Linked DNA regions of Homo sapiens: all the other regions are linked to region 2. The links come from fine-mapping of genetic effects on gene expression. A gene starts in region 2. Each other region holds a variant in brackets. All regions are shown on one strand. Distances are between the middles of the regions. Region 1 has its middle 56 kb from the start of ANTXR2. Region 2 holds the start of ANTXR2 (ANTXR cell adhesion molecule 2). Region 3 holds the start of LOC107986294 (a long non-coding RNA gene).

What was found. PIP is the estimated chance that this variant, and not a neighbour inherited with it, causes the effect. A credible set is the group of variants that fine-mapping cannot tell apart.
Region 1: its variant is the best candidate, but not a certain one, in a credible set for the expression of ANTXR2 in whole blood (TOPMed, PIP 0.82).
Region 3: its variant is the best candidate, but not a certain one, in a credible set for the expression of ANTXR2 in whole blood (TOPMed, PIP 0.70).

What each region holds. Positions count from the first base shown.
Region 1 is chr4:80,123,765-80,134,625 of GRCh38, forward strand. No RefSeq gene overlaps it. Among named protein-coding and RNA genes, the nearest start is that of ANTXR2, 56 kb to the left of the region's middle. RefSeq lists a cis regulatory region at 3,701-3,838. The variant G/GGTTGTT (reference allele first, on the strand shown) is at 4,514.
Region 2 is chr4:80,068,451-80,079,311 of GRCh38, forward strand. ANTXR2 (ANTXR cell adhesion molecule 2) reads right to left here and starts at 4,779. Exons shown (of 17, transcript NM_058172.6): 1 at 3,959-4,779; 2 at 3,133-3,204; 3 at 986-1,057. The coding sequence starts at 4,110. RefSeq lists a silencer at 4,069-4,228 and enhancers at 4,409-4,518, 4,849-5,128, 7,899-9,098.
Region 3 is chr4:79,555,504-79,566,364 of GRCh38, forward strand. All of the region lies in intron 3 of LINC00989 (long intergenic non-protein coding RNA 989), which reads left to right. LOC107986294 (a long non-coding RNA gene) reads left to right here and starts at 6,652. Exons shown (of 7, transcript XR_007058155.1): 1 at 6,652-6,798. RefSeq lists enhancers at 3,028-4,025, 4,026-5,021. The variant C/T (reference allele first, on the strand shown) is at 4,550.

The DNA.
Region 1 (10,861 bases), 55 kb after region 2:
ATCTTACCAGATAAACCACTTCAACACAAAGCAATATAGTAAGACTGAAAAGTCTGAAAACAACCAGAAAATAGGCAATAAAGTGGCCATAGTAAGTCCTTACTCATCAACAATAACATAGAATGTAAATGGTCTGAAATCTCCATGTAAAATGCATAGATTGGCTGAATATAAAAAAATCAAGACCCAACTATATGCTGCCTTCAAGAAACCCACTTTACCTACAAAAATGCACATAGATTGAAAGTGAGGGGGTAGGAAAATATATTCCATGCAAGTGAAAACCAAAAACGATCAAGAATAGCTATGTTTATATCAGATAAAACAGACTACAAATCTAAGAATGTAAAAAGAGACAAGAAAGTCACTGTATAATGATAAAGGGGTCAATTCAGCAAGAGAAATTATAACAATTATAAGTATATATTCACCCAACACCAGAGCTCCCAGGTATATACAGCAAGTATTAAAAGATCTAAAGGGAAAGATAGAATGCAATACAAAAATAGTAAGGGACTTTTACACCACACTGTCAGTAATGGGAACATCATCCAGACAGAAAATCAACGAAGAACCAGTGGAACTATACTGCACAATAGGTCTAATAGACCCAAGTGATATTTACATAATATTTTGCTCAACTGCTGAAAAAAATACATTCTTTCCACTAGTGCATGGAACATTCTTCACAGTAGACTATATCTTAAGCCACAAGACAAGTCTGAACAAATTCAAAATAATAGAAATCATATCAAGCATCTTTACTACCACAATAGAATAAAACTAGAAATTAATAACAAGAGAAACCTTGGAAAATGCACAAACATGTACAAATTAAACAACATGCTCTGCATTGATCAATGGATCAATGAAGAAATTAAGAATGAAACAAATGAAAATGAAAATACAACATATCAAAATCTATGAGGCACAGCAAAAGCAGTATTAAGAGAGAAGTTTAAAGCAATAAACACCTATATCATAAAAGGAGAAATAAACAACCTAAAAACACATCTCAAGGAACTAGAAAAGCAAGAACAAACCAAACCCAAAATTAGTAGAAAGAAAGAAATAATGAGGACCAGAGTAGAAATAAGTAAAACTGAGACAAAAAAAATACAGAATATCAACAAAACAAAATGTTGTTTTTTTGTAAAGATTAAAAATTCAACAAATGTTTAGTTACACAAAGAAAAAGAGAGAAGATCCAAATAAATATATAAAAACACAAACAAAAAAGGAGAGATAACAACTGAGACCTCAGACATACAAAGAATAATTCAAGACTAGTGTGAGCAACTAACTATATGCCAACAAATTGGAAAACCTAGAAGAAATGGATAAATTCCTAAACACATAAAACCTACCAAGATTGAAATATGAAGCAAGAGAAAACCTCAACAAGCCAGCAATGAGTAGTAGAATAAAAGCCATAAGTCTCCCATCCAAGAAAAGCTGAGGACCTGATGGCTTACTGCTGAACTCTACCAAACATTTGAATAATGAATCAAACTCTCAAAAAAATTAAAGAGGAGGGAATACTTTCATAAATTCATTCTATGTAGCTAGCATTACCCTGATAACAAAGCCAGATAATGACTCAACAGAAAAAGAAACTTACAGGTCACTGTCACTGATAACCATAGAGGCAAAAATTCTCAGAAAGTCTTTTCTTGAAGGAAGATCTGCATAGCTCATCTCTGTGTCCAGTACAATGTCCCTGCCTTTCTTCTCCTCAAAGCACTTTTCACTTTTCCTTCATTTCTCTATAACTTGAAACTTGTTTTTGTGTATTTATCTGTTCAATTGCTGGCTTCTCCACCAGATGGCAAACTTCATGAGAGCAGAGGTTACATTTATTTCATTTTCTACTATATACCCAGCACCTAGCACCATGGCTGGCACGTTACAAGAACATGAATGTTTGATGAACAAATGAATAAATGTTGCTGACATCTGAGGATAATTTGCCTTGAAGGTATTTGTAACCGGGATCCTGAGTGGTCAACAGATGCAAACCACTGCATATGACCCAAGCCTCTACAAGATTCGGAAAATTCTGCTTTTCCCTGCCAGGGGTATTGCTTTTTCAACTAACAGGCCTTAGTCTAGCCTGTGAAGTCTGGTTTCAGACCCTTGTGGTCTGACCTATCTTGTTTCTATCTCCAGCTTAGAATAAAATAGTGCCTTCAGCTTCTAATCCTCCTGAGTCTTTGAGAATCTAATTTCCTTTCATCTGCGGCACTAGGTAAAGTCATGAAGAGCTAATTTGGGTGAAGTCCTGGTGACATCATAACCACATCTACTATCAGCTACTGTTTCCTGCCCCCCAAAAAATCTGAATTTTCTTCTCTCTAGGCTTTGAAGCTTGTATATTTCCAACATCTCTTTTCCCCAAAAACTATTTTCATGCTGTGTTATACTGGGTTTTATTGCCCACCCTCCAGCTGAGCAGTCCTCCTGACTCTTAGCTTGCAGTTCTCATTCAGGAATTTCTGCTACCCACTCATGGGGCAGAAAGGAGGGGAGAACAGCCATTAAGGCTATCAAATATTACAAAATTGAAGACCCCACTGCTGGAATTTTAACAGCTGCTCTCCATACTGTCTCCTAATCTAAGCTTGACCATGTGGTTCTCAATAACAATTTAGGGAGGAGGGGTTCAGATCATCTAGACTATAATTATTAAACGGGGACAAAAAATTGAAGACCCCAACAATGATCAATTTGGTAACTTTACAGAGGACTAGCCTCACCCCAGTCATCATTAGGAGTTTCTTTTCAGTCTGCTCAGTAATGTGGTTGAGGAAAAGGATCCCCGGGCCTGGGTTCAAAGCCCAGCTCTGTCATATATTAGCTACATAATGTTGGGCAATTTGCTTAACTTTCCATGCCAACATCTTCATAAATATAAGGAGGTAAAATAAAAGCATCCACATATGAAGTGCTTGGAGTGATTAATAAAGTAATGTATACAAGTTGCCTAACAAAGTTTCTGGCACAGAAACAGAAGAAACACATAAAAATGTTATTGACTATTGTTATTTTTTGTGTCATCACTCTTTTCTTTTGTTCAATTGTCACTCTCTCTCACCTTCCTTCCTCCTCCTTTCTAGTCGCTCTGTCTCATTCTTTCTCTGAGTTTTTCTATAAATGAGGAGAAAAAAGAGCCTTATCTACTCATGCCTTCACTAAGAAATTAGTCATTTATTAATAATGAGAGGCAATATTGCAAAGTGGTTGGTCTGGTAGACTCTGGAGCCTGATGTCTTGTTTAATATTGTATCTGCCACATCCTTTCCTGTGTATTCTTGGGCAAGATACTTAACTTCTCAGTTTTCCTATCTGGAAAATACAGATAATATTTGTGTCTGCTTCACAGAGTTATTTTTAAGATAAAATGATTTATATAAAGTACCTAGTGCATAAGACTTCTGGATAAATATTAACTTTATTTCTTACAGCTTATTTTTATTTTAAAAGAAGGAAAAGAATTACTAAAAATAATAAATAAATAAATACTAAAAAAAAAAAAAAAAAAAAAAAAAAAAAAAAAAAAAACTCCGGCATGAACAAGGGAGCTATCAGGGATCAGATAGCCTCTCCCTGTTATACATCAAACCTCCAAGTTACTGTGTCTACTGAAGACCTTACTTTAATAACTTTCCCAACAGTCAACTCTCTTTCAACTAACTTTTCTCTTCTCTCTTGGGAGATTTCCCCTGGGTTGCCTGTTAGTGACTCACTTCCTACTGGCAGTCTTGTTCACACTTTAAACTTCCTGACAGTTAGTGAATCACCTCTGTATCCTGCCTTGTTATGTATTTATTTTTGCTTCTCCTTACCTGCCCCTACCCCCACCCCACACCAGCCACCTAATTCTCCTGGAGAAATCAAACAGTGAAGAGAAAAGACATTAGGGGCCAGAACATTGGATATCCATTGAAACTCAATGCCTTAAATACCTTTGGATGAAGCTTCAACTCAAATGTTGGTAAAATGTCTCCTCCCTCATTTCTCTTAATGTTAGAACCTACAATCTCTCAATTCTAACCTGTTATTTTCTTCAAAGCCTCCAATTAAAACCTCAGGTACAAACACTTGTATTTGTTTAGTGAAATATTTTTTACATGAAGAAGACTTTGGAAGATGAAATTCTAGACAGAAGAGGTAGTGTGATGAGAAAGAAAGAGAGGATGAGAAGGGGAGGATGAACAGCAACGGATACCCGCAAAATGAATGGGGATGGTGATAGTACAGGTAAAGAGAGAGGATGAGCAAGAAAGAGAATTTGGAGAGACTGATGAAAAAAACAGAAAATGAAAAATAAAAACTGAAGAAAGTAGAATATAATTAGCCTGGTGATTAAGAGTACTGGTTTTAGAGTTAGAGTAACTGTTCACATTACAGCTTTAATACTCACTAGCCATGTAACCCAGAGCAAGGTAGTTAACGTTTCAGTACCTCAGTTTTCCTATCTTTAAAATGGGAATAATAGTAGTACCTACCTCAG[G/GGTTGTT]GTTGTTGTGATTAATGAGCTAATGCATGGAAAATGTTGTGAACAATGTCTAGAACATAACAAGTGCTCAATAAATGTAGCAGTGGTTATTATTAGTAGGAATATTTATTCTTATAACTAAGGTCATCAGAGCAATTATTGTTTTCTTAAATTATCAGTATTTATAGCTATGACAACTTCTGAATGTCTACATTTCCAAATAATTAGAAAAACTTTTACTAGAGATGCCCAATATATTTGTCAGTGATATTAAATATTACTATCTCACTAAGAATGTGCTAAAGAAAATTCAGCAAAACAAATTATTTACAATTTGCACAAATGTGCTACAAACATCCAGAAGAAAAATTCAACTGCATTTTTGTACTGTATTTAATGTATCTATTTTAGAATATCGAGGCACTTTCCTAGAGCCAGGACATCCTGTTTTAAAATACTAGGGTCAGCGGGGAGAGAAGACTCAAAAGTCTATGTGTTAAATGTGTTTCCATACATTTCGCAGGGAACTGACCCCAAATCCCAGCATGTGTGTATAACTGCCTCAGATACCTGAAAGTAAACAAAACGGATAACTAGTCCTGCCTATTGAACCAACATTAAAGCTCTGATCAAAAAGATCTTCTCATCAGATGTTCATATATTCAAAAGTTTACTGCATCCCATAATGTGTTGACATGTTTACTGTGATTTGCTAAGAAGCAGGAGAGACTTTTTTCCACTTAACAGGAGGCTTCTTCAATCAGGCTCCTAAAGGGTTTTAGCAGTTCAAGCAGGTGAGTGACAAATGTGATTACAATCAACAGGAAATAGGAGCTAGATCTTCTGCATATTCTCCTACCCACCCCTCCCCTATAAAATATCTCACATTAAACTGCCAACATGATGAACTTCAGAAAATATTCACAGCCCAGTGACACTCACATAGTCAAGCTGCTATTAACAACTACTCAGACACCTAATATTGCCTTGTTTTGTGTGAACTGAAGACTGATGAACCTGAGTTATTTCCTTTTCACTGTTATCTGATACTATCATTTTATAGTAGTTGGAGCAGAAAAGGAAAATTGGTCTCGAGGAAATGGAAGACAATGTTTATGATATTATAGTAAAAGAAATGAAATACAGTTTACAGACCCTGTTTTTGCCACTAATCATGCCTTTGCCAATTAAAAAATGAAAACAATGGTGTTTTACACGTAGTACTTTCCACTAACTTTTCACACATATAACCTCTTATAATCTTCTCAATGATCTTGAGAAGACTTATTCTCTAAGATTAACCTCTTGAAATATCTTAGGGCTAAATTTCCTGACCTATGAACAAAACGTCTAAAATCTTGAGGAAAGAATGTTTATAGCAAGATAGCCTTTTTCAAGCCTAGTAACTGTGTTAACGTTTTTTTTTTCTTCTCTCCCTAGAAGAAGTGTGAAGCTCAGGCAACGAAAGTAAGATTTTCTAAAATGCACTTTTTATTGTTTTTCTATAAATTATTTACTTATTTCTCAAGTTTGTTCTAATTGAAAAGTTAACTTTGCTAATTCAAGGTGGCTCAGTCCCTTTCAGATATATCTGAATCTGTTTTGGTTTAAAACTCTGTTTCATGTTTTTCCTCTTTCTCCTCCCCTTAAGGATAATCTAAATTCTAGGAGTCTTACTTTTTGTCTCCAGGATCAGAACTGGAATGTCTATAAGGTATGACATCATCCTCCATCCACACTGGCCAAAGTTGAGTGTTTTGTTCATTCAGGCTTTGGGTACCATTCTGTCCCTTGATGCTTGCCCTGGCTTGGACAGTGTATCCTGTCATACACCAGCCTACATTTAGCCCTTGCTTCTAGAGTACCTGGGGGCTCTGAGAGGTTGTCTTTGGACCTATGATCAGACACCTCCTTCAGTAATGGTCCATTGTCACTCAGGCATGATATTGGACTTGGGACGTCTTTTACTTTGCAGTTTGGGAGCTGCACCCTCTGAAGCTCCATCTGCTATGGATCCCCATACACTTAGCCAGGCTTTCTTTTGTCCTCCCTATGAGGTTTACACTACACACAATGGAAGTAAGCAGGAACTTTTCTGGCACCCATTAAAGCCCTAGTAGGGCCTTCTCAGATTTTTCTTTTGCCACCAGCTGATCAGACTTTCATCTCCTTTAAGTGACCAAAAAAGACCCTGATCCTATATCATCCTGCATTTTTGTCAACTCTATGATGCACAGGATAAATTACATATCCTGTGTCCTCTTGATGTTCAAAATCTACCTCTTGAAATTTTAAGGAAAAATATATTGTCTCTCAAGAAGGCTCATGTAAATCAAAAGCACTGGCTTTTCGACCGCTAACAGTTTCTGGTGTAGAGTAGTAATAGTCTATTTAGTCTACTCTTAGAGTCAGTAATATATAATGATTAGGCACTTGGTTTCAAGGGCCAGAATGCCCAGGTTCAAATCTCAGTGTAAATGTATACTAGCTATTTGACGTTACATAAATCAACCTGTATAGTTTCTTCGTCTGGAAAAAAGAGCATAATAAAGTTTCTGTCTCAAAGGGTTGTTGTGATTAAATAAGCTAAGCACTTAGTACAGTGTCTGGAATATATATAGTGTTTAGGACTGTATGTGGCATATAGTAAGCAGTTTTTTTACTATTAAAATTATCAAAATTATTGTTACTTCAGAACTGAAATAGTCAAGAATTTGACTTAGGTCTTGCTGAGATCTCTTGTGTTTCTCATCTTAAGGCAATAGTCTGCAACCTAAATAGGGAAATATTTAAAGATATAATTCTGCTATAAAGAATTAAATCTAGTAGCTTTCTAACTACTGTGTACCAACCACTTAGACTGTATTGAACACAAACAAGTTGTTATGATGGCTAAAATGGACCCAGTAAAGAATAGCAGTTTACACCTTTTTCAAGTGTATTTAGATTTATCTAAATTTAGATTCAATAAATCTAAAAATAATATCTCATAATTGTATGTACTCTGTGAGGCCTTTCTTGATGAGTACCCTCTGCCTTCCCATAGATTCGCAATACTCCTCCTCCACCATCCCCATATAAAACTAAATGTGATTTCTCTACTTTGAAGTCTCATAACTCTGTTTCTATCTCTTATGTGTACTTTCACTAAATATCAATTACTGTAATTTTTATACTTGTTCACTCTCCCAATTTGGATTGCTGGCAACAATTCCTTTTTCTTTACTGACAGTGTCTGCTGTAATGCTTCATACTAAGAAGGTTACAAATAAATGCTGTTGAAACATCTCTATGAAATGAAGCTAAGTAGTAAACTAAGTAGTAAAGTAAAAATTATAAGAAACACTGAATGAGATAAATGCAATGAATCATAGTAGTTAACAGTATAGACTTTATGTAAAGCTGCAACAGGTTTCAATCCTAGCTCTGTTATGCTGTGACCTTGTACAAAAGTCTGCACAGTCTTTTCATCTTAAGCTGGGGACATTTAAAATCATATGACAGGATAGTTGTGTGAGTTAAGATTATGTGCAAAGTACTCAGCACAGCATTTGGCATATGGTAGCCATCAATTAATAGTAGCTATTAAGCCTGAGGAGGTGATACCAAAAACTTTGTATGTACCTCAGAGTTTTGGCTATATGGGTATTCTGATTAAAACTATTCAATTAGAAAGTTAGAGCCTGTAGTAGGCTGAAAAATGGCCCACTAATATATCCACATCCTAATCCGCAGAACCTGTGACTATTACCTTATGTGCCAAAAGGGACTTTGTAGATGTGATTTAAGTTAAGGATCTTGAGATAAGGGAATGTCCTGGATTATCTTGGCAGGCTTAAGGTAATCACAGGGATTCTTCCCCAAAAGAAGGAGTTCGGAGATTAAAGAGAGAGTAGGAAATGTGAAGACAGAAGCAACATGCTGTAGTGATCGTGAGCCAAGACATGCAGGTAGCCATTAGAAACTTAAAAAGACAAGAAAATGGATTCTCTCCTCAGAGCCTCCATAAGGAGCAAGCCCTAAGATTAATTTTGTACTTCTGACTTTCAGGACTGTAAGATAATTAATACCAGTTGTTTAAAAGCACTAAATTTATGGTAATTTGTCATAATGGCAACAAGAAAATGAATCCAGAGATTATGAAATAAAAATCAAGGTATTACTACTTTGAAAAGTAATTTGATAATTTATTATAAAGTTAAACATACATTTACTCTATGACCAAGCAATTCCACTTCTAAGTACATTCCCAAGAGAAATGGACACAGAGTCTTACACACAGTTATTCATGGCAGCTTTATTCATAATAAACCCAAACTGGTAAGAACCTATATGTCCATCTGAAGGTGAATGGATAAGCAAATAACAATGCATTCATTCAATGGAATGCTACAGAGTTGCAATAAGAAGAAACTACTAATACAATAACATGGATAAATCTAAAATATTTTGCTGGCTGAAGGCAGAAACAAAAGCATACGTACTGTGTCATCTCACTTTTACATGTTCTAGGCAAGGCAAAATTAATCTATAGCAATAGAAATCAGATCAGTGGTTGCCTCTGGGTATGGGGGCATTGGCTGTAAGGAACAGAAGGTAGGGTGAAGGAAACATTTTACATTTTGATTGTGGTGGTGGATATATGGGTGTGTAAATGTAATAAAACTCATTAAATTGTCCTGACAAACCAATGGCTGTATTCAAGACCTTAAAAATGTTGAGAACGTTAGTCTAAACTAGAGCCTTAAATCCATATGGATTCCAAATATTTCATTCCAATTTCCACAAAGTAGCCTGGGAAATTGCCTGAACAAATACATATCTAATAAATTACAAGTAGTAGAATTTAAAAACTTATGCTATGCAAAATATGTAAAGCATAAAAGAGTTGCTTTCTTTTTTTTTTTTTTTTTTGAGACAACAACAAAAAAACAGACAGCCTGTTCTGTCGCTTAGGCTGGAATGCAGTGGCATGATCTCTGCTCACCGTAACCTCCACCTCCTGTGGTTCAAGTGATTCTCATGCCTCAGCTTCCCAAGTAGCTGGGATTACAGGCGCATGCCACCATGCCTGACTAAGTTTTGTATTTTCGATAGAGACAGGGTTCCACCATGTTGGCCCGGCTGGTCTTGAACTTCTGGCCTCAAGCCATCCGCCGGCCTCAGCCTCCCAAAATGCTGAGATTACAGATGTGAGTCACCGCACCTGGCAAGAGTTGTGATTTTTTTAAAGTATTCTTTTTGGGGGGTTCATGTCTCTTTGAAGAAGACATATGTGTTAGATTGAACTACATGAAATTATCCTGTGTAGGTTAAAAAAATCAAATATCAGCGATTTTGTATGATTTGATTTAAAGAGAAGTCAATTTTTCGACTAGCTTCATTTCTTAGTCAAGTACTAAAACATAACTAAAATATTGACATTTTTCTTACAAGGTAAAAAATTATATCTTTGAGTGAATATCCCCTTATAATGTATACTTTAGAAATTAGAATAGAATGATTGTTATTGTTTTATCCTGTCAATTGCATTTCAAAGATAGTATATATTTTTTAATGTATTTTTTTCATACAAAATGCTGTCGGTTTAAAACACCCTGCATATATTTACATTCCAAATCAGTGTCACTTTCATCATGTGTTACCATAGAAGAATGTTTCTTCTGTAGTGAATTTTAAAAAAGAGCAAAAACAGGGTATTCTTAAGCAGGCAGACTTTGACAAGCTGCTCTGCAAAGCTTAAGCGCATGTTTTTGATTAATTCAGGTATCTATAATTATCTAAAAAGCAATCTAGAGAAAACCAATTTCAATCCAATTCAGGTCATTCCATGCTTCTAGTCTCAGGTTAAAATAGTGGTCTTGGTATGTTTGGAAACTGCTGTCTTAGGAGTGACATGGGGCAGTAGAGATAAGATGAGAACCTATTGTAATCATAAAATAAAAAGGTCAAGGCATATACCTGTGCTATCTACTTCTATTTGGTGGTAGCAGCCATAATTGACCTGGAGTGAGGAGAGTTCTGGGGGAAACCTGTAACACTTATGTCTCCTTTCTTGCTTTTCTTTCTATTGGATTAAAAATAGAGGAGATTAGACAAACTATTTTAGTCCTTTGGAAATATACCTACTGAAAGCATAGTTCTAGGAATCTTTTTTCTTTGACCAGAAGGTGCTTAAGTGAGTTTTGGATTCAGAAACAAAAAACAGAAGTTCTGTAAAAGAATAATACAAAGTAATTTATCTTATTAAGATAGGAGATTTGGGTCCTGGGAGAAGTGTCTAATAAATTCCACTTTTCATTATAGAATACTACCCGAACTGCTGAAAATAAAGCAAAGAGAGGTGGTACCACCACCAGAATATATATT
Region 2 (10,861 bases):
CCACTATGGATCCCATTCTTTAAAACATGTCAGTGAGGTGGGGTGTGGTGGCTCACACCTATAATCCCAGAACTTTGGGAGGTCAAGGCAGGCAGATCTCTTGAGGTCAGGAGTTCAAGATCAACCTGGCCAATACAGTGAAACCCCCGTCTCTACTAAAAAAATACAAAAATTGGCCAGGTGTGGTGGCATGTGCCTATAATCCCAGCTACTCGGGAGGCTGAAGCATGAGAATTGCTTGAACCTGGGAGGTGGGGGCTGCAGTGAGCCAAGATAGCACCACTGCACTCCAGCCTGGGCAACAGAGAGAGACTCTGTCTCAAAAAATAAAAATAACATAAAATATATCAATGACTATTTCTAACTTGTCATTGACACTGTTTGAATGACACAGAAATGGTCATATGAAATACTGTGACATTGGTCTGAAAAAGACACCTTTTAAAAAACACTAAGGAGATTAAATAGATAGGTAGATAGATATAGAGATATATTGGTATACATATTGATATATACTAAGTTCCCTTATAAAGGTGAATATATTCAGCATTAATGGACCTCAGAGAAAGACCAGAAATCCAGGATGTCTACTGAATCTAGGAAATTATCCAAAAGGATCCATATCTTTCTCCCCCTCAATGTTCTTCAAATTCCTGGTTGATTAATATATTATATCTAAACAAGAAAAATGTAGAACTACTTACAGTAACAGAGAGGCCGGGGAAGGTAGGAAGTGGTGAATATACAACTAAGACAGGGATCTAGATTTCACTGCACATTCCACAGCCACTATAAATGATATTGATTTTCAGATTAACTGCTCTTTTATATTACTCATACCTCCTTTCCCTTCTATTAGAGAACTGAATTGTCTGTGCATCTGCTTGATTCCACTGAGAGGCCTGAATCACCACTTGGAAATATCAATCATGCCTTTAAAATTCATCTCTACTAAAAGCCTGCAGTGAAATGATAATGCACTAACCTGTCTCCAGTTAATGGCAAAATAATAGTTGCTTGAGAAGAAAACACAATGAAAGATAATCTCATTTCAGGGCTGCAAAATAAGAAAAGAGGCAGTTAAAACATTTTTAAAAAGAAATATTGATACGATACAGATGTATAGTTAGGGAGGTTCATTTAAAATTGGTCTCACTGAATGGTCCAGGCTTCTTTTAAATGACATTCCCTAAGTAAATAGACGAACTCTGCTTAACATTGTTGCATAAGTCATTTTGGATTTAGTCAACGCTTCCCAGCACTCACATACTCCTCCATGACCCATAAGGACTTGCATTTAGAGAGAGACTAACTGGAAAGATAAATTCTAAGCTGATGTAAAATTCTTTCGTAGAAAATTCCTCTTCCCTTGGTTTTCTACAACATTTCCTTTAAAGGTGGCCAGGCCCTTCAAAGTGATTATGGTTATCAACACTTATGGGTGGAGAGTACCCAGTTTGACTTAATGACCATAACTATGATATGAGTCTATAAAAAAGTCATCCTGAAGTAAGACTACTTAAAGAGTCATGGAAAATGTGAAAGAAACAATAAATCACTTTCTGCTTAGGCATTTTTTATTTTCTAAGTCTCAAACATGCTATTTTCCATTGGCAACAAGTGCCCCAGTCAGCTATATCTTTCAAGTTTTAGGCATGTCTCTCACAGAACGGTTCTTGCTTCTCGGACACTCTCTGCAACTACTACTAAGATTCAAAACTGAAGATATGAAACTAGAATCTATAAACTGAAAATCAGAATCCTCTCAAAGGCTTATACATATTTTAAAAGTCAGTCTCTTCATTAGTCACCCCTTATTCACTTCCTACAATGTATTGTTAGTAATTGAGCAACTAGGCTTGAGCCAGACAACTGTGTATTATAGAATTCCAACTTAAAAACCAGATCAATGAGTTAAGATAAGAGCTTGCTTCTTTAAAATGTTGTAGTGATGTGATTCATTGCTTTTGATCAAAATCTACATGACACCCTTTTCACATTGAAGGATTAAATTAGAAAATTTATAAACAACTGTCTGTTCTGCCTTTGACATTTAGGGACATAGGATCTTGTTTGTTTTTCTTTCCTAGACAGTTTTACCTCAGACCCTGTCCAGAAATGAGTGTTAAACTTGGCTTCTTAAGCAAGGGACTGATGATTGAACATGGACAGGCATACATTTTTATAGGGATAACTTTACTGCTGCCAATAACTGAAAGCAAGGATTGCCTAGGCCTCTACAGATTGTTTGAAGTTACTTGCAACATGACTTTCAAAATGTTTTGATCATCCAAGCCTGTTTTACAGAAAACATTTGGGCTAACAAGACTGAAAGAAGCAATATTTAATGATACAGTTCCTATTCATGTCCTTTCCATTATCTTGATAAACTTGTGTTTGCTCATTGCATTTTTTCTTTAAAAAAAAAAGAAGGAAAAAAAAAGCCTCAAAAGCCTAGTGTCCTGAGGTTATTTTTAAATAGGAGATGCCACTAATTCCTAGTTACCTCTAAATAAGAGAGTAAGCTGGATTTCATACCAGTAATGCTTTTTATAGGAGAGGAAACCAGTCTTTCCTGGTGATGCTTATTGCATATATAGAACAGTTAAATTTTAAACCAACCACACACCCACACATTGTGTAAACACAAGTCGTTGCTTTAAACACACACACAAGTGCCTTTTCTGGTAGCGGGTTATTAACACATGTTCATTTGAAGTTTTCCAACACTTTTTGTTTGTTTTAATGAGGGCCTCTATAATGCTAAGAAATGTGTGGAAAGAAAAATATATTATGGATACTATTCGCATAAAATTTATTTTTTTAATGTGATAAATTATGAGAAAGCATAACTGAAATTCAAAACAGATGAAAATTCGGAAAGAAAAAGACATTTGGAATAGTATTTGAAGATGCTTCCCCAGAGTCTGAGCCAAGTTTCTGGGATCCAGATGAAATAAGCCCTCAAGGACTGAAGGGCTGTCCTAATAACAGCATGTGTGCAATACGACCTTGAGGCACTTAAAAGTAACATTTCAGGAAAAGTTTTTCCTATAAAAGGTTTCAGAAAAGGGAAATTCTACACTTTGCTCTACTTCTCCACTGCCTAGAAAAGTAAAGTAAGAAAGATACCTCACAAATCTCTCCGCAAGTTGCTGTACGAAATTATAAATTTCAATCCAGTTATTTGCCACACTCCCAGACCTGAAAGATGAAATTGAACTGATCAGAGAAACAAAACACGGAACTGAAAAGTAAACATTTTGAAATGGTTCCTTCTTCAATGCCACGAACATAGGGGCACCTGGCCTCTTTTTCAAGCTAAGTAAGGGTATCTGTAGCTGAAACTTTGGTGGTACCCAGAGTTAAAGAAGTCAGTCCCAGAGCAAGACTCCGTCAAAAAAAAAAAGAAGAAGAAGAAGTCAGCCCGTTTTCTGGGGTGGGTAAATACCTGCCTAATTGTTTAGAGTGGAACCCAGCTCTTCAGAGTAAACACAAAAGCCTTTCTTCGCAGGAAATGCAAACCACATTGGGCATGTTAACCCTAGGCTTTTCCTGGCTCCAATGAAAGCGCTATGATTAGGATAAAACCAGGCAAACTTTAGCCTGCGTACGAGCAGGGTCGAGGAGGTGGGTAAGGACTCTGTGGCCGATGGAGCGTGGCCCGCAAGAGGCCACACTCCCATTTCCCAAGAGGCCAAAAGACTGGCAAACAGTGAATACCCCAACTCCCCAAAGAGCCAAGTAGCCCGGGGCTCCAATCACTACCCCCGACCCGGCTGATCTCCGCCCACACAGATCCGAACGCGCTTGCCCTTTGAAAGAAGACAGCAACAGGGCACCCCTCCGCGGGTTTCCAACACCACTCCCCGGGGTGCGCACACGCATCTCAGCCTCAGCCCCAGCTGATCCAGTGCCGCCCTCACCAGGAGACCCTGGACCTCCCTCGCACACTCACTTGTCCAGGACGAAGTAGAGATCAAAGGCTCTTCTGCAGGAGGGCTGCTCCTGGGCGCGCAGCAGCCCCCCGGGACCGCTGAGCACCAACAGCCACAGCCCGGGGAACAGCCAGCTCCCGGGGCTGCGGGCCGGGGACCGCTCCGCCACCATCCTGCGGCCGGGGGCCTGAGACTCCCTCCCGCTCGCAGTCCCCTAAGCTCAGGAGGGTCGCAAAGGTGGCGGGAGTCACCCGGCACGCACTCTGGGGTGGGGGGCGGCGAGCAGCTGAGACGCCGGCGCCTGCGGCAGCGGGACCCACCAGCTGACAGGGAGGGAGAGAGGGAGGTCCTGAGAGGACAAAGGGAGTCTCCGCCACCGCCGCAGCTGCCGCCGGAACTCTTGACGAATCCCAGTGGAAGCGCGATCCAGTCCTCCCCCTCCCGATTCCGGAGAGTTCCTGCAGACAATGCGGGCCCACGGCGACAGCTCGCGAAAGGAGTTCCTCTCCGGCCTGGGGCCGAGCCTCCAGCGCCCGCCTCGGACCCGGACCTGGAACCCACCCCGCCTGGAGGGCTGAAGTCCCCCCCGCTGCCGTGCGCTTCGGGACAAGGGGTCCCTGGGACGCGGCGACGGCAGAACAAACTAGGAGTGGAGACTCTTCTCCTCCGGCGGCCCCAACTCCCTCCGCACTCCGAAACTTTCCTCCCGGTGCTGGACTCTGGCACTGCGCTGACAGGCCGTCCCCTTTAGGGGAGGAGGCTAGCTGGCCCTGGGACTCCCGGCTGGAGAGAAGCCACGCCGAGGGCAGGAGCCCGCTCGGGCCGGGTCTGGGCTGCGTGTGTCAGTGTGCGCCTGGGGACGAGGGCGGGGCCCCAGCTGAAGCCTCCGAGCCACACATGCACACTTGTGGGTTCCTGCCGAGTTGAAGATGACTAACGCTTGCCAGATTTGGGAAAGGGAAGAAGGAGTTTAGAAAAACAAAAGTTATCTAGAAACTAAACATACCCGTATGTCCTGCAGGCCTGGCCTATTTTAGCAGCTGTGCTAAAACAGCCCCCATGCGTGGTTCACAAACCCAAGACTAAGGATTCCATGGGAGGTGACGGCCTCCTCACTCCTCACTCCACCCCACCCCTACTACCACAAACACTCTTTATGAACTTCCTCTTTTTCTTCTAAAGAAACCTGCTTAGTTTTTTTTTTTTTTTTCTTTAAAAAAAGCCAAGCCAAGGAAAGGCCGGAGTGGGGAGTGGGAGGGGATAGCAGGCCTCTTTGGGAGTGGAAAGTTGTACCTCAAAATATTTCAGCCCACTGTCATTTCCCTGCAAGCTCCAGTTTTGGAGAATTTCAGCTTTGGGCAAGCTAGGTCTCCTTTGCAAAACTTGTGCAAGCACTCAAGTTTGTGCACAAATCCTCTGTCTACTAGTTCTGCTCTCCCTCCTCTCTCTTCCCCCCACCTCCGTGACTTCCGCCCTCCCTTAGTCAAAACTGGCTTTTAGAACCTAAATACCTTTTCATTTTTAACAAAATCAATGCTTTATGTAGTACTTACATATACATCTCTTCTGTTTGTTGCCATATGTATTTAACTTTTCATTTATTATATTTGATATACAACCAGATATGTCAGCTCTTTGAAGATAAAAATTAGTTACTTTAACAAAGATTCATTGAGTGCCTATTATTTGCTAGGCACTGTTCCAGAAGTGGAGGTTAGTGCACAGAACAAGATAACAAGCCCTTGCTTTCATGAAGCTGACAGTCTGGCTGAAGAGTGAAAACAGACAATAAGAAATAAATACATAAGCAAGGAAAAAAAATGTCCATATTGGAAAGGTGGCCTGTAGAAATTTAAAATATTGTGATGATAAAGAATGACAGACTCAGTGACTAACAAAAAAGACCCAGTCATTCCAAGAGCTCTAAGGGGAAACATTTGGAGTTACTGCAAAGGTCCATAGACATTAGCTTAGCATATTCAAAAAAGAAAAAAAAAAAACTGTGTAGCTGGAGCTTTGCAGGTAAGATGATGTAAGACAAATAGGCAAGGGCCAGATTATGTGATGCTTTGTTTACTGAGATAAGGAATTCAGATATTTAATATTGAGTGTGACAGGAGGTTATTAGAGGGGTTTAAGCCCAGGAGTGGAGTGGCAGATGAATTGATATGATCTGTGTTTTTCAAAGATCATTCTGGCTGCAATGAGACAATGAATTTGGAGTTAGCAACAGTGACAACAGGGAGAGCAGTTAGGAGACTATTGCAGTAGCAACATGTTGACAAACAATCCTGAGGTTCATAAATTTGGAAAGGAGAACTTCATTTCTTATAAAGGGTTACAGCTGCAGGCTGGACATCTTGACAGGCTGGGAAGTGTAGCCTCTGGCAGAGACAAAAAGCAGGCACTTTGAGGGAGGAAAGGGTGGAACAGGAATTTATGCTAAATGAGTTGGCCAAGTATACATATTCAACAGGTTATAGGAGGAACTATGAATATTTCTGAAGCAAGGGGTACATGAACTATGCATATTTCTGAAGCAGGTGGGTTAAGTTTCCACATCAAAGTGAACATGGGACATATGCAACATGCATGTTTAGTAAGCAAACATGAATAGTAAGCAAACATGCAAGTTGCATATGTCTCATGTTCACTTTGAGGTGGAGACTTAACAATTAAATGTATTATAATTAGGCCCTATATGTCAAAAGGTGAAACAGAAGACATGAAGGCACTCAGTGCCACAGCCTCTGTAAACCAGCCAGAACCAGTCTATGGTCAGTGGTCTCTTATCAGGAGAGTTATTAAAATCAGTCTCTTGTCCAGTCAGAGCTGTAGTTATGGCTTGTGGAACAGGGGTAGGGGTGGAGGATTAATTAGTTAGTGTCTTGCAGTCAGTAAGATGCAATTGTTTCAATATTGCTTATCTGGAGGCCAGTGTTTGTTTAGATGCTAGAGAAAAAGAAAACCCTTTTGGCAGTTAGAATATAGTTTATTTTTTAAGTGTAGGAGTGTGTGACTTGACCTTTGCCTGGCATGGTCTTAGGTCTTGTTTATAATTTGGTGTCTTATGAACACAGAGTACATTCTGTCAGTCTTATCATCTCTATTTTAACAAAGGCAAAATAAAATGGTACCTTGGACCATCATCACTATAGCAACTAACCTGAGAATTATGAATGGATGAAAACTTCAATATATACCGGCAGACCTCCATTTTGAAAATATGCTCATTACAAATGTCAAACATTGAATGGAGGGTGGCTAACATCCCTTCTCACTCTTTGCCAACTGGTCACTTGGGGATGGAAATTCCACCACTATCAACTGCATCAATCTGCCACTTTTTACCTGATGGAGTGAGGAAGATACTGAGGGGCAAGGGGCTAGCTAGATGGAAGATAACTTTTACTTTTGTAAGAAGGAAACATACAGCCTTCATAATTTTCAAATAATTAAGCACTAGAAGCAAGTCCTTAATTAGTCCTGAGACTAATTAAGAAAGTCCTTAAAGCACCTTAATTCTGTCCTCCTTGGCTTCATCTTTTCTTGAGGTTCTAAAATACTGATTACTTCTGCAGCCCTCCAGTCTCCAGGTATGTGTTGCCACTTCTCATTTCACATTTTGGTCCAACCTGAATACATAAATCTCCCTGACTTCCCATAAGAGAACTGAAACAGGCTGACATTTTCAGGAAATTTGTATCAACAGCTTGTTCATCTTTCAAGGTTTTGTATTCATTGCTGGTTGAAACTGGTTTCCATTTTCAACTTTAATCTTAAGACAGAATCAAAGATATTATATGCCACATCAGCATGTTATTGAATAAAATCTGGGGAAAAAATGTATCCCCCCAAAAAAGTGACAATTGGTTTCATGTTAGAAGGAGACAGAAGGCAAAGAAATATGAGACATGATACTAACCATGTACTCTGTCCTCCTAAGGAAGTATTTTAAACTCACATTTGTTGGTTTCCTTTATCCCTAGTCTTGACTAATTACCTGCTCATCTTCTGGGACTTCCCAAACTGGTCTAAGAATCCATCTTGTCCTAGGTTCAAACTAAAGCAAAATACCTCAATTTAAAACTCATTCTTCCTCAAAATTTCCAGGCCTTCTGAGAGTACTCCCACTCAGTTCTTCTTTCTTGAGTACAAGGCTGGCAGAGAATATTGACATACCAGAAAAATAGTAGCACTTTTTTGTTTATCTGTTTGCTTGGGTAAAGAATTCATCCCAGTCCTGGAGCATTTTGCATCTCACTGACTTGCTCATGTAAGATCTACAGCAAAGCAAAAAATGGCCTCAGACCAATAACTAATCAAATCACTTTCATTTAATAAAAATTAATCAGAAGATCATTAATTACTGGGGCAGCCAAGTGTCCTAATTTGTCACAGACTGAGGGGTGTCTTCAGTCTCATGGACATGGGACTTTCCATGCTAAAACTAGGGCAGTCCCTGGGATAGTTCCTGGCAAGCAAAACTGTTGGTCATTCTTTTCCTAAGCAATAATGAGGGAAGATGAAAGCAAAAGCAGACATGAAAATCTCTCCAAGCCATGAAAAAGAAGTGGTAGCAACAGCAGTACTTTCCCTTCTTCATCAGTGAGAGCACTCTGGGAATTGTATCAGCTGGAGAATAGCCAGGTAAGGTTTCAAACTGACTTTTGTACCATGACAGTCATGCTGGGACCCTGCTTAACTTTCAATCTGACATCAAGAATGGGAGGGATAATGCAGATTTTTTAAGAGAGAGAGAGAAAAAGAGACTCTATACTGCATTATGTAGGTAAATAAATCTAAAAAAGTCTCTTTTATCAAATTATTTGTATTTCCACTGAATTATTTGGCTTTACAATCCATGAATGCCCCCACTCTTTGAAAATTATTCTTTGTATTAAATCAAACTTCTTAATAAATAAATAAATCAAACTTATTAATAAAAATGCTAATGAACCCCAAAACATGTTAAATTCATTTTAATGCAGTTAGAATAGCTTGAGATTGACACTTGATGATTTAAAGTCTTCACTAGACCCCCCTCTCATTGTCCTTTTTTTCCTACCTGCAGAGCTCCAATGGACTACACGTTAAATTATATTTAATTACTTATTTACTGGTCTTTTATTATACTTAATGAATGTTTACTGATACCTACTATGTATCAGGTAATGTTTTAAGCACAAATGTTAGACTTTCTATTCTCAAGCAGTTTGCGTTTTCAATCTCCTGTCGTGAATTTATTTCCATCACCCCATACCCCAACAAATAAACTAACAGAAAGGCAAATAAGCAACGACAATAAAAGTATTCTTTATGTGTAAAAAATTATATAATCTATATTATTTGCAAGTAGACATCTTTTGTGGCATACACGACTACAGACGTGACTCTCCCGGAAGTTGAGTACCATACTGAAAATGATTCATATTCATGTCACATGGGAAATGATTCATTATATGATATCTACAGTGATTCAGAGGAAGAAAATAAATCTTCACTACCTATAAGTGATAAAGCTTATTTCAACTTTTATCAGGCATAGTCATTAAAGAACTAGATTTCGTCAATGTCTGAACTAGTTCCTGAGAGTGAATACAATGCCTTTGGAAGGTGCAATTGCCTCTAAATTAATATCTCTATGTATGACAATAGGGGGTGCTAACTAATGTTAGAGAATGATTACTAACATTTGCATTTGGGATCAAATGTGTCTCAAATTGAGTTTCTCAGAAACAGACTTGAGATTCAGAAATTTGCATGCAGGAGATATATTGAGGCATGCAGCAAAACCTCAACGAAGGGATGAGGGAAGCAGGAACTGTCAGAGAGAAACTTGAACCATGATGGAATTCCGAAGGAGGCTTCAGGCAACCACCAAAGGTAACTCTGGAGCTGTGATAGCCTTTCATAGTTGTCCTGAATTGAGTGAGACAAGGGAGCCAGTGTTTGTTACCCCTCATGGATCACTCACTAAATGTGGGCTTCCACTCTACAGGGGAAAGGCATAACCTTAAGCAATGGCAGCTTCTTTTGACTTGGGGCAGTTATGAGGAGGGACTCAGTTGTGAGCTGTCAACAGCAAAATCCTGGCTGTGGGGAAATTAGTGTTTCAGCCCTGAAGGAGGAATCTAGGTGATGCAACTACAGCACCTACAACCACAGCATCTAGAATATCCAAAAAAGGCCAAGACACCTGGCAGCTAGTTTGTTGAAAGTCCTATCTCATGTGCAATGTCAGACCTTCACAAAGCAGCTCAGGCTTGGATTGGCATCCTAGAATGATAAAGTCATGTAACTGCATCACTTCTCTCATGCCTTCTATCTTAGCTCTGGTGCAGGTCAGTTTCTCAATTCTCGAAGGAATTGCTCTAACAGTATTCTATTCTTCCTATACCTTCTCCATATTTCAATATAATTAGTCCCCTGAAGCATAAAACCAATCATATTAATCACCTACCTAGTTACTGCAATGGAATGTGGTTTCCTAACAATGGAAGGCCCTCCACAATAGCATTACAACTTAGCTTTGTATCCTCACCTCAACAAGTCTAGTCCCTTCATATACTTGATGCTCCAGAGAAACCTTGCGAGTCACTGTTCCCCTCCTATGCACAAGTATATCTTTTGGATTTACCTCGTTTTGTACTCACATTTCCCTGATACTGTGTTCTAGGTGTCAAATGCTATCTCCTCTTTCTCTTGCCTTCTATTCTCACTGAACAATTCAGGTCAAAAGCCATTAGGTGGGCCAAGCACTGGGTGCTAGGGTGGTGCAGAGCTACAGTAAAGTAGTCCCAGCAATGTGCCGAAAGCCAAGCAGGGCGAGGAGAGTGTCCCCATGGTGCAGGGAAGGACAGCCTGGCATGGAGCATTGGAGACTGAGAAGGGTGAAGAAAGTGTCTACGTGGGAAGGTGGC
Region 3 (10,861 bases), 510 kb before region 2:
GGGCAAATCCTCGAGCTTGATGTGTAGAGAAGGGAAGGGGCCTGAAGAATACCTGAGGAGTAGTAGAATAGCAGATGGAACACTGAGAAGTTATTTCCTTGAGGATAGATTTCTACTATGGAAAGGAAATGAGAGGTTCTAAGAGGCGGGCTAGTGGCTTGTGCTATAGTATAACCTGCCTTTACTGGTGTGTGGCGATTAGGCCTGGGTGGAACCGCCATCAATAAATCAAGCATGATCAGGGTGAGGAACAGAAAAGAAGGAAATTTGGGGAAATGGGGTGAATGTCAGGTGGATCAGAGGGATACAGTCATGGGGGTCAGGTGTGGTATCAGGAATAATGTGGGAGGCCGGATTGAAGTCTGGGCCAGGAACAACGGTAATTGTGGGAGACTCAACAAAGAGTGAGTACAGCTGAAGGAGCCGGGAAGCAGAAAGTATATGCATCAGGTATGAGGAAGAAAATAGATTTTGGAAGTTATGAGAACTGTAGAGAGTGAGTTGAGCATAGTTTGTGATTTTGAGGGCCTCTAAAAGTATTAAAGCAGCGGCAGCCACTGCACGCAGACATGAGGGCTAGGCTAAAACAGTAAGGTCAAGTTTGGACAGAAAGGCTACAGGGTGTGGGCCTGGCTCTTGTGTAAGAATTCTGACCGCGCTAACCATGCCTAGGAAGGAAAGGAGTTGTTGTTTTGTAGAAGGTGCTGGGGTTTGAGGGGTCAGTCAGACACGATTGGCAGGGAGAGCACGTGTGTTTTTATGAGAATTATGCCAAGATAGGTAACAGTTGAGGAAGAAATTTGGGCTTGATTGAAGTAATGGGGGCTGTCTGTGAAGCTTTGCGGCAGTACAGCCTAGGTAATTTGCTGAGCTTGATGGGTGTCAGGGTCAGTCCAAGTGAAAGCGAAGAGAGGCTGGGATTAAGGGTGCAAAGGAATAGTAAAGAAAGCATGTTTGAGATCCAGAACAGAATAATGGGTTGTAGAGGCAGGTATTGAGGATAGGAGAGTATATGGGTTTGGCACCACGGGGTGGATAGGCAAAACAATTTGGTTGATAAGGCGCAGATCCTGAACTAACTTGTAAGGCTTCTCTGGTTTTAGGACAGGTAAAATGGGGGAATTGTAGGGAGAGTTTATAGGCTTTAAAAGGCCATGCTGTAGCAGGCGAGTGATAACAGGCTTTAATCTTTTTAAAGTGTGCTGCGGGATGGGATATTGGCGTTGAGTGGGGTAAGGGTGATTAGGTTTTAATGAGATGGTAAGGGGTGCATGATTGGTCGCCAAGGAGGGAGTAGAGGTATCTTATACTTGTGGGTTAAGGTGGGGGGATACAAGAGGAGAACGCAAAGGAGGCTTTGGATTGGGAAGAAGGGCGGCAATGAGATATAGCTGTAGTCCAGGAATAGTCAGGGAAGCAGGTAATTTAGTTAAAGTGTCTCAGCCTAATAAGAAAACTGGGCAGGTGGGGATAACTAAAAAGGAGTGCTTAAAAGAGTATTGTCTAAGTTGGCACCAGAGTTGGGGAGTTTTAAGAGGTTTAGAAGCCTGGCCATCAATACCCACAACAGTTATGGAGGCAAGGGAAACAGGCCCTTGAAAAGAAGGTAATGTGGAGTGAGTAGCCTCCGTATTGATTAAGAAGGGGATGGGCTTACCTTCCACTGTGAGAGTTACCCGAAGCTTGGCGTCCGTGATGGTCTAGGGGGCTTCCGAGGCTATCGGGCAGTGTCAGTCTTCAGCCGCTAAGCCGAGAAGATCTGAGAAGGAGTCAGTCAGAGAGCCTTGGGCCAGAGTTACAGGGGCTCTGGGAGTGGCTGCCAGGTGAGTTGAACAGTCCGATTTTCGGTGGGGTCCCACAGAGCTGGGACGTGGCTTAGGAAGAATCCCGGGCTGCGGGCATTCCTTGGCCCAGTGGCCAGATTTCTGGCATGTGTAGCAAGCTCCTGTGGGAGGAGGTTCTGGAGGAACGCCTGGCCACTGCGGTTCAGGCGTTTTGAAGTTCTTGTGTGCTGGAGATGTGGCTGGGGTTTGTCTCACAGTGGAGGCAAGGAATTGCAACTTTTTTCTATTATTGTATGCCTGAAGGCGAGGTTAATTAAATCCTGTTGTGGGGTTTGAGGGCCGGAATTTAATTTTTGGAGTTTTATTTAATGTTGGGAGCAGATTGGGTAATAAAATGTATTTTGAGAATAAGACGGCCTTTTGAACTTTTAGGGTCTAGGGCTGTGAAGCGTCTCAGGGTTGCTGCCAAACAAGTCATGAACTGGGCTGGATTTTTATATTTGATGAAAAAGAGCCTAAACGCTTCTGATTTGGGATAAGGAAAAAGGAGCATTAACCTTGACTCTATGCCTTTAGCTCCAGCCACCTTTTTAAGAGTAAATTGCTGGGCAGGAGGGGGAGGGCTAGTCACGGAACGAAACTGTAATCCGGACCAGGTGTGAGGAGGGGAGGTGATAAAAGGATTATAGGGTGGAGGAGCAGAGGCTGAGGAAGAATTGGGACCTAGCTCGGCCTGGCGAGGAGCAGCCTGGGGAGGAAGGGAGAGGTCAGATGGGTCTGTAGAAAAGGAAGATTAGAAAGACTCAACGACGCTTGGGGTTGGTACTGAGGGGACAGGTGGGAGGGAAAGAAGGAAGATTTGGGACGAGTTGCACTGGGCACAGAGACTAGGAAGGGACTGATGTGTAAAAGAATGCCTGGACGTCAGCCACCTCAGACCGTTTGCCTATTTTATGACAAGAATTATTTAGATCTTGCAGGATGGAAAAATTCAAAGTGCCATTTTCTGGCTATTTGGAACTACTGTCGAGTTTGTATTGGGGTCAAGTGGCATTGCAGAAGAAAATAAGGCATTTAAGTTTTAGGTCAGGTGTGAGTTGAAGAGGTTTTAAGTTTTTGAGAACACAGGCCAAGGGAGTAGGAGGAGGAATGGAGGGTGGAAGGTTGCCCATAGTGAAGGAAGCAAGCCTAGAGAAAAGAGAGTAGAGAAACAGAGGGAAGGGGTTCGGGGGATCTTACCTTCCAGAAAAGTGGGGAAAGGGGTTGGGGCACAGAGATAAGAGGTCGGGGCATGGAAATAAGGGATTGGGGTGCAGAGATACGAGGTTGGGGCGTGGAAATAAGGGATTGGGGCACAGAGATAAGAGGTCGGGGTGCGGAAATAAGGGATTGGGGCACAGAGATAAGAGGTTGGGGCGTGGAAATAAGGGATTGGGGGTTCTTGCCCCCTAGAAAAGCAGGACTTGCTGCTAAGGGTGAAGGAGAAGGGGTTGGGGTACTTGCCCCTGCCCCAGGAAAGCGGGACTTGCCACTAAGGGTGAAGGACCAAGGCAGGCGTCCCTGCGTGGTCTGACACCCTTGAAACGTCAGTGTATAATCAGAGAGGCGTCCCTGCAATTATTAAACACCAAGGGAAGGCTGCCTTCCCAGTCCGTGACCAGCGCCGGAGTTTTGGGTCCATGGATAAAACGTGTCTCCTTTGTCTCTATCAGAAAATGAAAGTTATTGAAATTAAGAGAAGAGAGAGATTAAAGAGTGGAAAGGAGAAAGTGGTTGAGGGACAGTGAGAGAGGTTGGAGAAGAGAGTAAGAAGAGGCCGCTTACCTGATTTAAAATTGGTGAGATGTTCCTTGGGCTGGTCAGTCTGAGGACCTGAGGTCATAGGTGGATCTTTCTCACGGAGCAAAGAACAGGAGTACAGGGGATTGAGCTCCCAAGGGAGGTCCCCTGATCCGAGTCACGGCACCAAATTTCATGCGCATCCGTGTGAAGAGACCACCAAACAGGCTTTGTGTGAGCAACATGGCTGTTTATTTCACCTGGGTGCAGGCGGGCTGAGTCTGAAAAGAGAGTCAGTGAAGGGAGATAGGGGTGGGGCCGTTTTATAGGATTTGGGTAGGTAAAGGAAAATTACAGTCAAAGGGGGTTTGTTCTCTGGCAGGCAGGAGTGGGGGTCGCAAGATGCTCAGTGGGGGAGCTTTTTGAGCCAGGATGAGCTAGGAAAAGGACTTTCACAAGGTAATGTCATCACTTAAGGCAAGGACCAGTCATTTACACTTCTTTTGTGGTGGAATGTCATCAGTTAAGGTGGGGCAGGGCATATTCACTTCTTTTGTGATTCTTCAGTTACTTCAGGCCATCAGGGCATATACCGGCAAGTCACAGGGGATGTGATGGCTTGGCTTGGGCTCAGAGGCCTGACTCTCTCTTGATATAAAATATTATAGTATGTTTGTGTGCTGATGGGGGATTTAGTAAAATGAGGGATTTAATGTGATTAGAGAATAATTTATGTCTATTAAAGGAGGAGTTCATCCTAAAGAAAGTCATGGGCTGTACGTGGTGGCTCACGCCTGTAATCCCTGCACTTTGGAAGGCTGAGGCAGGCAGATCACCTGAGGTCAAGAGTTTGAGACTAGCCTGGCCAACATGATGAAACCCCATCTCTACTAAAAATACAAAAAATTAGCTGGGTGTGGTGGCATGCACCTGGAATCCCACCTACTTGGGAGGCTGAGGCAGAAGAATCACTTGAACCTGGGAGG[C/T]GGAGGTTGCAGTGAGCCAAAATCATGCCAGTGCACTCCAACCAGAACAAGAGCGAAACTCCATCTCAAAAAAATAAATAGGTAAATAATAAATAAGTCATGGACAGTTTATTCTTGCTGAGAAGCAACAAGGCAGAGTATATTAGCTGTATTTGGGTTGGTTGGTAAATGTAATGTTGGAAATATACAGAAATGAAGTTTCTCAGAAACGTAAGACACATAATCCTCAATTGAGTTTGAGGGAGTCAGAGAAACTATTACAGGTTTGAGGAGATTAAAGTATGTATGAGGTAATTATCACATTTAGCTGTTGAGATGCAAGATTGAGTAGATTAATCAAGATTGGGATTCTGCCAAGTGGGCACAATAAAGGGAGTAGGCAGGGCAGTTGAGGCTTAATATTATATACAAGAAAGTGATTTTAGTAGTGGGCCATTAATACCAACTAATTAAGGAAGGAAGTAAAAACAAAAGGAGGGATGAGAAATAATAAAAAGTTGGTAAGACAACTAACTAACCCTAGATCCAGTGGGAATGAAGGACTGTATGAGCTAGAATGCGCAAAGGTAGGGGTTGGAATGATAGGGGTGGTGATCACAGAGTGGCAGGTTTGGAACTGAGAGAACGGAAGGGTACATTTCTTGGTATCAAGAAGATATAAGTTGTGTCTATGGGGACATACTGCTGAGGTAGGGTAGGCAACAGACTATTAGAGGGGAGAAGGTCAAGAAGCTAAAAAGGCTTTGTATTTTGAATTCCCTCATATCCTTATTCAGAAGTCATCTTCTTAGTGATACTTTTTCTGACCATTCTTAAAATTTCAAAGCCCCATCACCCCACCCCCAAACATATACATTACATAGCTATGTTTCTTGGTTTATCTTTTTCTTCTTCTCAGCCCTTATCATGATCTGAAATACTATATATTTTTACTTTTTGGTTTTATTTATTATCTATCTCCTCCACTTGAATGCCATTTCCTTAAAAGCAGTGATTTTTTTTTTTGCTTTCCTGCTCTATCTCCCACCTTGAAATTAGGGCCTGACAAATTTGAGGCACTCAACAAATATTTGACTTATAAATGAAGGGACAAGTTATTGAAAAGATTGTTTTTATGAATCTTAAAATAATCAAAGATTGTAGAGCTGCAATATTTAAGAGAAATGACCGTGAATAGGGGACTAAAATTTTTACAGAATGAAGGCAAGTGGACCAAGGTGCTGCAAATCTATTAGGAAGGATAGGAGTGATATATTCTGATTGTATAAGCTTAAAATCCAGGGATTTCAGGGAGTAGGGGAAGACAGTAATCTGAAAGTAGCTATAAGAAGCAAGGAAGACATCTGCCATACCTCCATGGTCATGGTGACAAAAAAAAGTGAAGGAGACAATGCTCTGATGAAAATAATGTCTTAGGGAAAGAGGCAAGTTTCAGATAGAGTCAGAAGGAAAAAAGAACAATAAAAGAAAAAATATATAAGCAAATACAATCATCCCGCAGTATCTATTTTGTGAGAATATTACTATTTTTCCTTCGTAGAGCAATTTAGAAAGCATAAAATGATTTGACTTTTGCAAAAAAATGTAGAAGAGAAAAACAGGACTCAGTGAGGTTTAATTAATTGCCCAATATTCCCTGACTAGAAAATGGTAGGCTCAAGACTTTATGCTCTTTTCATTACATCTAAACCGGGAAGCAGATACAGTAGGTGCTGTGCTAATTTAGGTATAAATATAGTTTCTTGGAAGTCTTGGATTAGGAGGTAGTAAAATTAAATAAAGCATGGTATGATGGTTAATATTGAGTGTCAACTTGATTTAATTGAAGGATGCAAAGTAGTGTTCCTGGGTGTGTCTGTAAGGGTGTTACCAAAGGAGATAAACATTTGAGTCAGTGAACTGGGAGAGGCAGACCCACCCTCAGTGTGGGTGGTCACCATCTAATCATCTGCCATTGTGGCTAGAATAAAGCAGGCAGAAAAATGTGGAAGGAGCTGACTTGCTGAGTCTTCTGGTCTTCATCTTTCACCTACACTGGATGCTTCCTGCCCTCGAACATCAGACTCCAAGTTCTTCAACTTTTGGACTCTTGGAGTTACACCAGTAGTTTGCCAGGGGCTCTCGGGCCTTTGGCCATAGACTGAAGGCTGCACAGTTGGCTTCCCTGCTCTTGAGGTTTGGGACTCGGACTGGCTTCCTTGCTCCTCAGTTTGTAGATGGCCTATCGTGGGACTTCACTTTGTGATTGTGTGAGTCATTTCTTAATAAACTCCCCTTCATATATACATATATCCTATTAATTCTGTTCCCTTAAGAGAACCCTGACTAGTACGCATGGGTTGTGAAGCTGGCTAATATTAAGATGAGTCAAATGGGGAGATTTTTTTCAGGGATAAAATTGCTCTGTGTTTGAAAGTAAAAATTCCAAGTTTTAGACTTTTTTCTTTTTTTTTTCTGGAATGGATTGGTACCTCTCTGGTGTCCCCAGAACACTTGGCTAAAGGTACAGGAGAGTAGGAGCTGCCCAACCTCCTCTTTGTATTTCATCTCTCCTTTCCTAGGGCAGAGGAAAGGGATAGTAATATCACATCTTCACCCCTTACATTCTTCCTTAGAATTTGGACATTTCCCCTCATGCCTAGAAATGCCAAGGATTTACACTCACAGTCCCTTAAAATTAAGATTTTTACCTTTGCCTGTTTATTTACAACATGCTTAGACATTTGCTATAGCATCTCATTAACTAATATATGAGAGGGATATATGTAGAAGTTATTTTTTTTTATTTTGAGTTTCCAATTTTGTTAAAGGGAATAGTTATAATTATTCTATGTACTTATATAAATGTTATATATAATTTTATAGATAATAGGCTTAATTAAACAAGGTTATTTATGCTTTAATGATAGAGTTTTTTCTCTTTTCTGCCCTGCATTGGCTTGTGAAATTATGCAATGTTACCTTCCATGCTTTAAATTTTGCAAACACTGTTCATCTCACAGAATTAGTTAAAGTCTTTCCAGATGTGGATTTGATTAATAGAAGCTTACTAACTGTGGCTAATTACTGATAATGATAGTATCACAAGGCAACTTCCTCTCCAAAGTCACCTTGGTCTTTCTTCATTGCTAGAATAGAAAGAAACCCCACAGCCATACCTCCCCCAATCAAAATGAAAACAGAATAATATTTAAACTTTAATTTGGGTGGTAATTAATACAGCTGATATAATACTAGGCTTTTAGTATAAAACAAATGATCATTTATAGATATGTGAGAACTTCAGCCCTCCAGACTGGTTTCACAGTGTGGATAGATGAGTCACGCTGAACTAGTGTCTGGATATTCAGAGTGATGGGCAATGACCTATTCTTCTTTATCTCCTTTGAACCAGATTTCCATTTTAATTGTTTCTATCACCTAGAAACAGAGGAACAGAACCAGTGTGGTAATGATCCAAGCTGAAATGAATGTGTCTTTCCCTGTCCTACTCATTTTCTAAAGAGGTAAAGCCCTCTAGTATTGTTGACTGTTCCTCCTGGCTTCCCTCTTCCAAAGCCATATACTGCTTCTCAGTAAAGTGCCATCAAAAGTGAATTTCTCTAAAGATATGAAAATAGACAATAATTAATTGAATAACAACTTGGAGATGCCTTATTTATCGTCTATTAGAATAGATAACAAAACAATATAGACAAAGACAATAAGATTTAAAAAGAAGTTGAGTTAATATCCCACACTGCCTCTTGTACAGATTTTTTAATATAGCAGAAATTCATGCATATGTGTAAGAGTCCATTGGTCAAATTGCATTCTGACCAAGTGGACGTATGAGAAAGCATTAAAAATCATGGTCATCCAATTCTTCTTTGTCTGTTTGAGTCATTTCAATCAGTCTAAGAAATGTTTTGTATTATGAAATTATGAAAATGTAAGAAATAGTGTTCAAGTTTCTTTTGATACACTGGAATGGAAAACAGAATGACTATCTGCAGAAGAGCTAGAGAAACAAGGCAGTGGAAGATCTTGGAAGAGTGAGTGCTTTGCAATAAACAGAGATGATCTTTAAAAACAATATATAAATCCTGTATTTGTGCCCATTTTGTGATGATTTCTTTTGTAAGGATATTATGATTATTAAGAAGCAAAAGATGATGATGCCAACATCTTGAAACAAATCATTTAATTTGGACAGATTCTATATTATATCTTGCTATTCATATAGCTTATAACATTCATTCAGTTTATTTTAGTAAAGTGATCTTGTAGATTTGCATATGGGGTGCTATAGAGGAGGTTCTGGAAGGGCAAAGAGAAGAAGGAATGTTTTGGGTTTATCAGAGTGCTAAGCTGTAAGAATAGCACCAATGAATTGAGCAAAAAGCAAACATGGGCGACAAGCCACATATTTTATACTTTATTCTTGTAAAATTGACAGCAGTAATGCTGATATTAGTAAATACCAACATTAGATTGCAGAAGTATAAAATTGTTAATTGAGTTTCACAAAATTCAGAGCATTATATTATGAAATATTTATGTTGTAGAGTGTAACCTATATATTTTAAGCCTCATCATCCTAAAAGTATAATACAAGAAACAATTTTTAAAATACATATGATTATGGCATTACTCCCCTTTAAGCTTTATTGCCAGAAATTAGATTGCCAATATATGCCCAGTTATCTGGGGGTTAGGGAGATTTCCCAGTGTGCTTATTCATGGAAACTCTTTATATTGGGTTCTCTTGCCTTTTATTGCTGTGTTTTGCTGCTGCCTTTGCTATGGCCTACTATTAATAGATTTCTATTACTGGGTACAACAGTTCTTCACTGATAGCTATTGCTGGAATTTCCAATATGGTCTTAGGGAAAGGAGACAGCTCTTTCACTAGTTATTCTCCCTAAAACATGGTATAGGTGCTTTTAGATTTTCCATAGCACAAAATAGATCATGCTGTAACTTTAAACAAGACTCAGGGATGATGGATGTGAAGTGTGGTGTAGAGAAACTTTCATCACCTATTAAAAGTGGCCATACTTAAAGCAACTATTTTCCATAGGGGAAACACCCACACAGACTTTGATGTCCCCAGAGGAACTATTACTGGAGTCTTGAAATACATTTTTTGAAGTGTGGATTATTTATTTTTAACTAATTACCTTGGGTAACGTATCGCCCATCCATTTCAGATTGCACGGCATTTATCCTTGACTAGTTTCTTTCCAGACAGAGTCTACACGACCCTTCTGCAGTCTTTTCCAACGAGGCATTACAACTAGGAAAGACCTACTTGCAGAACACATTCTATCATGCAAGGTCATCCAATTATTTATGGAGTCAGAACAGTCTAAATTCAGATTTCAAAGAGACATTCCTCCATAACGAAGGGTATACACTGTTAGTTTGTGAGCCATATCCACTCAGCAGACATATTCTATTTAACTCACATAGGTTTAAAATTATGAATTACTTGCCAACCTTTTAATGATGGGATATTTTGTATAAATGTCTAGAACATCAGCTTCTTTTGAAAAACTGAAATATATGGCAATCTTAGAGTCATATTTCTGCATGATCATAATCTGTTGAGACAGAGTAAATGTTACCCCTTCAACAAAGCATAAACTCTTGGGTTACCTCAAGCCCCACCTGGCTCACTTCACTCATTTACTTTATCAGCCTTCTCTCTGAAGACATTTGAGATTCAGTCCCTGCTCCCAAATCCACAAGGGTGTAAGTACACTAAGATATAGTTAATTTAGATTCCTAAATAAAACAGTACACTTCTTGATCCGGAATGGTGCTTTTTTGCTAATTTTAAGACATACATATAGGTAGGTATTTTCCAAAAACTATGGGCAAGCATTTGACTTAAATTCACATCTAACGATTTGCATTAATCTTCTCCAAAAGTGTAATTTACTTTAAAATTAAATTTCAGTCTTCATCCTTGAAGTTGATAGCTCTTTGTAAACTTTAAATGGCATTTTTGCCAATGTTGACAAATCTCAATTGCCAGTCTTCATTCAGGTAATGCATTAGGAGATTAAAGGTCTATCTTCTTACAGTGAGACTGGAAAGACCAAGCCAGTGTGTGCCCAGTCATCATAGCAGAGGACTAGTGGAAATTGGAGCAAACCATAGAACAATCTGCCTTGTGGTACAAATGGGCTGACTTTTTAAACAAAGAAAACTTTGAAGAAATAATGCAAAAAGCATCAGTTACTTCAGTTTCAGCTTCCATAAGATGTTTATGTGTACTGAAATGATGGACCTGCATCAGATTTCTAGACACACATGTCTGTATCT